Linked DNA regions of Homo sapiens. The protein of the gene in region 1 interacts with the protein of each later gene in a biochemical or structural test. Each region holds a gene or a part of one and is shown in the gene's direction. Other genes may lie near its edges.

Evidence for each region.
Region 2: the proteins of SAMHD1 (region 1) and IKBKB form a complex in vitro, tested with the Homo sapiens proteins (one study listed by BioGRID).

Annotation. Positions count from the first base shown.
Region 1 is NC_000020.11:36,913,438-36,917,254, reverse strand, and holds part of SAMHD1 (deoxynucleoside triphosphate triphosphohydrolase SAMHD1), read left to right. Parts: intron 1-205; coding exon 206-306; intron 307-424; coding exon 425-533; intron 534-3,817.
Region 2 is NC_000008.11:42,274,084-42,277,900, forward strand, and holds part of IKBKB (inhibitor of nuclear factor kappa-B kinase subunit beta), read left to right. Parts: intron 1-3,817.

The DNA of each region.
Region 1 (3,817 bases):
GTATCATATACCTTAGCATTTCTTTTCCCTTTCTACTAGTTTTGAAATGAAGTGGAAGAAAGAAAGAATAGAACCTTCTAGTTTATCTCATATTCCCAGTCAGGTATCTGTTTATATTTTACAGATTAATAAAATTGCTTTGCTTTGTTTATAAATAGATTTGGTGCCTATCCTAAAACTTCCAGTGGGTTTTCTTGCCTTCCAGTGGCCATATAAAGGGCGTCCTGAAAACAAAAGCTTCCTTTATGAGATAGTATCTAATAAAAGAAATGGCATTGATGTGGACAAATGGGATTATTTTGCCAGGTATGCACTGAACACTTCTGAAAAGTTGGCTAAAATATTTATATAAATTTAGTATTACTATTTAAGGTACAGCTTCCTTGTTGAAAAATTTCATCTCTCTGTTTTGGAATCCTTCTAGGGACTGCCATCATCTTGGAATCCAAAATAATTTTGATTACAAGCGCTTTATTAAGTTTGCCCGTGTCTGTGAAGTAGACAATGAGTTGCGTATTTGTGCTAGAGATAAGGTAAGCTGTGCCAGAGGAGGCAATAAGAAGAATGTTGTTCCTGGTCTGAAATTTGGAAATAACCATTTAACAATTTGGAATAATTGGTAAATCGTCAGTCTCTTTACTTAATTCCTAGGATTTGTAAATATCTTTAGTCTCTTCCCTTCTACTGCATTATTAAATAATAATAAAATTAACATGGACATTTATTAAGTTTTGAGTTAGACACTGGTTTTGGGGTTTTTTTGTTTGGTTGGTTGCATTTTTTTTTTTTGAAATAGGATCTCACTGTGTTGCCCAGGCTAGTCTTGAACTCCTGAGCTCAAGTGATCCTCCCTCCTCAGCCTCCCAAGTAGCTGGGACTACAGGTGCACACTATCATGCCTGGCTTGTATGAGGCATCATTTTAAGTGCTTTGGACGGATCAACTCATTCCGTATAACCCTGTGAGATAGATACTATTATTCCATTCAACAGGCAAGCAAATTAAGGCACAGAGAAGGCATATAATTAACAAGTGGTAGAGTTGGAATTTCAACCCAAAAAGTTTGGTTCCAGAGTCTCTCTCTTTTTTTTTTTGAGACGGAGTCTCGCTCAGTCACCCAGGCTGGAGTGCAGTGGCACGATCTCGGCTCACTGCAAGCTCCGCCTCCCGGGTTCACGCCATTCTCCTGCCTCAGCCTCCCTAGTAGCTGGGACTACAGGCACTCGCCACTATGCCCGGCTAATTTTTTTTGTATTTTTAGTAGAGACAGGGTTTCACCGTGTTAGCCAGGATGGTCTCAATCTCTTGACCTCGTGATCTGCCCGCCTCGGCCTCCCAAAGTGCTGGGATTACAGGCATGAGCCAAGGTGCCTGGCCCAGAGTCTCATTTTTAATCACTGTATTAGTGTTGAAAAATTTTATACAGTTGACACCTGAACAAAATGGTGTTTAGGGGTGCTGTCCCCTCTCCTAGTTGAAAATCTGTATAAAACTTTTCTTTACCTTTTTTTTTTTTTGGAGATGGAGTCTCCCACTGTTGCCTAGGCTGGGGTACAGTGGCATGATCTCGGCTCACTGCAAGCTCTGCCTCCTGGCTTCAAGTGATTTTTCTGCCTCAGCCTTGTGACTAGCTAGGTTTACAGATGCATGCTACCACGCCCAGCTAATTTTTGTCTTTTTAGTGGAAACAGGGTTTCACCATGTTGGCCAGGCTGGTCTCGAACTCCTCACCTCAAGTGATCCACCCGCTTCAGCCTCCCAAAGTGCTGGCATTATAGGTGTAAGCCACTGTACCTGGCCTGCATATAACTTTTGACTTCCCAAAAACTTAACTAAATAGCCTTCTGTTGACCAGAAGCCTTATTGATAACCTTAATGGTCAGTTACACACATTTTGTATGTTTTTTGTTTTCTTTCCAGACAGGGTCTTGCTGTGTTACTCAGGCTGGAGTACAGTGGCACTATCATAGTGCATTGTAGCCTTGACTTCCTGGGCTCAACTGATCCTTCCTCCTCTGCCTCCCGAGTAGCTGGGACTACAGGCCTATGCTTGGCTAATTCTGAAATTTATTTTACAGAGGTGGAGTTTCACTGTGTTGCCCAGGCTGGTCTCAAACTCCTGGGCTCAAGCAACCCATCCACCTCAGTCTCCTAAAGTGCTATGATTATAGGTGTGAGCCACTGCATCCAGCCTATTTTGAATGTTACGTGTATCATATACCATATTCTTTTTTTTCTTTTTGGATACAGGATCTTACTCTGTCACCCAGATTGGAGTGTAGTGGTGCGATCTCAGATCACTGCAACCTCCACCTTCCCAGCTCAAGCAAATCTCCCACTTCAGCTTCCCGAATAGCTGGGACCACAGGCGCATGCCACTATACCGGGCTAATTTTTCTATTTTTTTTTTTGTAGAGACAGGGTTTCGCTATGTTCCCCAGGCTGGTCTCGAACTTCTGACCTCAAGCAACTTGTCCTCCTTGGCCTCCCAAAGTGCTGGTATTACATGTGTGAGCCGCCACGCCCCATCTACTGTATTCTTACAATAAAGTAAGCTAGAGAAAAGAAAATGTTATTAAGAAAATCATAAGGCAAGGCCAGGCGTGGTGGCTCACACCTGTATTCCCAGCACTTTGGGAGGCCAAGGTGGGCAGATCACCTGAGGTTAGAAGTTCGAGACCAGCCTGGCCAACCTGGGCAACATGGTGAAACTCCGTCTCTACTCAAAATACAAAAATTAGCTGGGCGCAGTGGCGAGTGCCTGTAATCCCAGCTACTTGGGAGGCTGAGGCAGAAAAATAACTTGAACCCGGGAGGCGGAGGCTGTGGTAAGCCGAGATTGCGCCACTGCACTCCAGCCTGGGCGGCAGAGCAAGGCTCCACCTCAAAAAAAAAAAGAAAGAAAGAAATTCATAAGGCAGAGAAAGTATATTTACTATTCATTAAGTGGAAGTAGATCATCATAAAGGTCTTCATCCTCATCGTCTTCACATTAAGTAGGCTCAGGAACAGGAGGGATTGGTCTTACTGTCTCAGGGGTGGCAGCGGGGCAAGGAAATCTGTATAAGTGAACTCTCACAGTTCAAACATGTGTTGTTAAAGGTCAACTGTAGTTAAACAGCTGAAATCACTAGGTCCCTGTTAGATGGCAGTCATGTAATCAAAAAGTAGTATAGTACTATACTATAGAAAGTCAAGAAGGGCTAGGCGTGGTGGTACATATCTGTAATCCCACTACTTCGCAAGGCTGAGGTGGGCAAATCTCTTGGGCTACCGAGTTTGAGACCATCCTGGCCAACATAGTGAAACCCTGTCTCTACTGAAAATACAAAAATTAGCCAGGCGTGGTAGCATACACCTGTAATCCCAGCTACTCAGGAGGATGAGGTACGAGAATCGGTTGAACCTGGGAGGTGGAGGTTGCAGTGAGCCAAGATTGTGTGCCACTGCATTCCAACCTGGGTGACAGAGCGAGACTGTCTAAAAAAAAAAAAAAAAGTCAAGAATGAAGAACATAAGAATAGTAATACCTATTTCCTAGAGTTATTGGGAGGATTAAAATATATATATATTTAATTTAAGATGCCTAAAACGGAAACTGTCACAGAGTTTGAGCATGTGATAGATTTTAGGGTTTTTTTTTTTTTTCTTTGAGTTGGAGTCTTGCTCTGTCACCCAGACTGGAGTGCAATGGCGTGATCTCCGCTCACTGCAACCTCCGCCTCCTGGGTTCAAGTGATTCTCCCACCTCAGCCTCCCTAGTAGCTGGGATTACAGGCACCCGCCATCATGCCCGGCTAATTTTTGTATTTTTGTA
Region 2 (3,817 bases), on another chromosome or scaffold:
GCAGTGGTGTGATCTTGGCTCACTGCAACCTCCGCCTCTTGAGTTCAAGTGATTCTCCTGCCTCAGCCTCCTGAGTACCTGGAATTACAGGTGTGCACCACCATGCCAGCTAATTTTTGTATTTTTAGTAGAAATGGGGTTTCACCATGTAGGCCATGCCGGTCTCAAACTCCTGACCTCAGGTGATCTGCCCACCTCAGCCACCCAAAGTGCTTGGATTACAAGCGTGAGCCACTACGTCCGGCCTGAAATATACAATAAAGTTTTATTCACTGTAGTCACCCTGTTGTTCTTTAGAATACTGTAACTTATTCCACCTAACCGTAATTTTGTACCCATTAACCAGTCTCTCCCTATTTCCCTCCACAACTCCCCCCACCCCCACCACCCTTTCCTGCCTCTGGTGACCACTATTCTACTTTCTACTTCTGCGAGATTAGTTTGTTGTTGTTGTTGTTGTTGTTTTGAGACGGAGTTTTGCTCTTGTCGCCCAGGCTGGAGTGCAGTGGCGCGATCTTGGCTCACTGCAACCTCTGCCTCCCAGGTTCAAGTGATTCTCCTGCCCCAGCCTCCCGAGTTGCTGAGATTACAGGTGCCTGCCACCACACCTGGCTAATTTTTGTATTTTTAATAGAGACGGGGTTTCACCATGTTGGCCAGGCTGGTCTCGAACTCCTGAACTTAGGTGATCCCCGCCGGCGCGCCCCCCCCCCCCCCCGCCATCCCAGCCTCCCAAAGTGCTGGGATTACAGGTGGGAACTACCGAGCCTGGACGAGATCAGTTTTTTTTTGTTTGTTTGTTTTGTTTTTTGAGATGGATTCTTGCTCTGTTGCCCAAGCTGGAGTGCAGTGGCACAATCTTGGCTCGCTGCAACTGGTGTCTCCCAGGTTCAAGCGATTCTCCAGCCTCAGCCTCCCAAGTAGCTGGGATTATAGCCGTGCACCACCACGCCTGGCTAATTTTTGTATTTTTAGTAGAGACAGGGTTTTACCATGTTGGCCAGTCTGGTCTCAAACTCCTGACTTCAGGCGATCTGCCTGCCTCGGCCTCCCAAAGTACTGGGATTACAGGCATGAGCCACTGTGCCTGGCATTTTTTTTTTTTTAATTTTTAATTTCTTTGGAGATAGGGTCTCAATCTGTCATCCAGGCTGAGTGCAGTGGTGCCATCATGGCTCACTGTAGCCTTGACCTCCTGGGCTCAAATGATCCTTCTGCCTCGGCCTCCTGAGTAGCTGGGACTACAGGTGTGCGTTGCCATGCCCGGCTAATTTTTGATTTTTTGTAGATAGGAGGTCTGTCTGTTGCCCAGGCTGGTCTCGAATTCCTGGACACAAGTGATCCTCCCACCTCAGCCTCTCAAAGTGCTGGGATTACAGGTGTCAGCCAACAGACTTTACCCAACTGAGATCAGTTTTTTATTAGCTCCCACGGATGAGTGAGAACATGTGGTATTTATCTCCCTGGGCCTGGCTTAATTCCCTTAATGTAATGCCCTCCAAGCTCATCCATGTTGCCACAGATGGCAGGATTTCATTCTTTTTTATGGCTGAATAAGAGTACATTGTGTCTGTGTACCACATTTTCTTTGTTCATTTGTTCATTGATGGACATTTAGGTTGATTACATATTTTGGCTATTGTGAATAGTGCTGCAGTAAACGTGAGGGTGCCCATATCTCTTTGATAAACTGATTTCCTTTCCTTTGGATAGATACCCAGTAGTGGGATTGCTGGATCATATGGTAGTTCTATTTATAGTTTTTCTTTTTTTTTTGAGACGGAGTCTTGCTCTGTCAACCAGGCTGGAGTGCAGTGGCATGATCTCAGCTCACTGCAACCTCCGCCTCCCGGGATCAAGCAGTTCTCCTGCTTCAGCCTCCAAGTAGCTGGGATTACAGGTACATGCCACCATACCCGGCTAATTTTTATGTTTTCAGCAGAGACGGGGTTTTACCATGTTGGTCAGGATGGTCTCGAATTCCTGACCTCAGGTGATCCGCCTGCCTCAGCCTCCCAACCTGCTGAAATTACAGGTGTGAGCCACTGCGCTAGCCTTGTTTGTAGTTTCTCAAGGAACCTCCATACTATTTTCCATAATGGCTGTGCTAATTTACATTCCCACCAATAGTGTATAGAGTTCCGCTTTCTCCACATCCTTGCCTTCATTTGTTACTTTTTGTCTTTCTGATAATAGCCATTTTAACTGTGGTGAGATGATATCTCATTGTGGTTTTGATTTGCATTTGTCTGATGATTAGTGATATTGAACATTTTATCATATACTTGTTGGCCATCTGTATGTCTGAGAAATTCCTGTTCAAATCATTTGCCCATTTGAAAAATTGGATTATTTATTTTTTTGCTGTTGAATTGTTTGAGTTCCTTGCATATTCTTGATATTAATCCCTTGTTGGATGGATAGTTTGCAAATAATTTCTCCCATTCCATAAGTTGTCTCCATAGGTTCCATAGGTTTATTCTGTTTTTTCTTTTGCTGTGCAGAAGCTTTTTAGTTTGATGTAATCTCATTTGTCTACTTTTGCCTCTGTTAACTGTACTTTTGAGGTCTTATCCATAAAATCTTTTCCCAGACCAATGCCCTGAAGCACTTCCCGTATGTTTTCTTGTTTTTTTTTTTTTGAGACAGTCTCACTCTCAGCTGAGACAGGTGCGATCTCGGGTCACTGCAGCCTCTATCTCCTGGGTTCAAGCGATTCTCCTGCCTCAGCCTCCTGAGTAGCTGGGATTACAGGCAGCGCCATCACACCCGGCTAATTTTTTTTTTTTTTTTTTTTTTTTGAGACGGGGTCTCGCTCTGTCGCCCAAGCTGGAGTGCAGTGGTGTGATCTCGGGTCACTGCAAGCTCCGCCTCCCGGGTTCATGCCATTCTCCTGCCTCAGCCTCCCAAGTAGCTGGGACTGCTGGCGCCTGCCACCACCCCCGACTAATTTTTTTTTTGTATTTTTAGTAGAGATGGGGTTTCACTGTGTTAGCCAGGACGGTCTCAATCTCCTGACCTTGTGATCCGCCTGCTCGGCCTCCCAAAGTGCTGGGATTACAGGCGTGAGCCACCGCACCCGGCCACGTGTGGCTAATTTTTTTTTTTTTTTTTTTTGCAACGGAGTCACGCTCTGTTGCCCAGGCTGGAGTGCAGTGGCTTGATCTCGGCTCACTGCAACCTCTGCCTCCTGTGTTCAAGCGATTCTCCTGTCTCAGCTTCCCAAGTAGCTGGGATTACAGGCACCTGCCACCATGCCTGGCTAGTTTTTATATTTTTAGTAGACACGGGGTTTCACCATGCTGGCCAGGCTGTTCTCAAGCTCTTGACCTCAAGTGATCTGCCCACCTTGGCCTCCCAAAGTGTTGGGATTACAGGCATGAGTCACTAACAGGCGCCTGGCCTGTTATTTATTTTTAAAAAGCCAAAAGCCAGCTTCCTCCTCCTGCCGGCTGAACCCCACACAGTCTGTCTGCACCTGCCTCTCCATCATTCCTCCCCTTGGCTGCCTCTGTTTTGAGCGCTGAGCCCTCTTGCCGGACAGGCCTCCCCCTCCTCCACATTCCTCCAGGACCAACTCTAGGCCATCTCCTCCTCATATGCGTCTGGGATGGCTTTGTTCTGTGGCAACTGGTTCTCCCGGTGAGTTCCTCTGGGCTGGTTCCTGTGCCGCCCTTCCTGTCTGCGTGTGGAGTAAGTCTTGTCAGGACCCTGCATTCCTGGTCAGCCAGGGCTGGGTCTGGCCTTTGGAGTTCCTTCAGTTCTCCTGTAGCAAGTGCCTGACGTTGTATATGTGCTAGGTGCCCCAAATCATCCA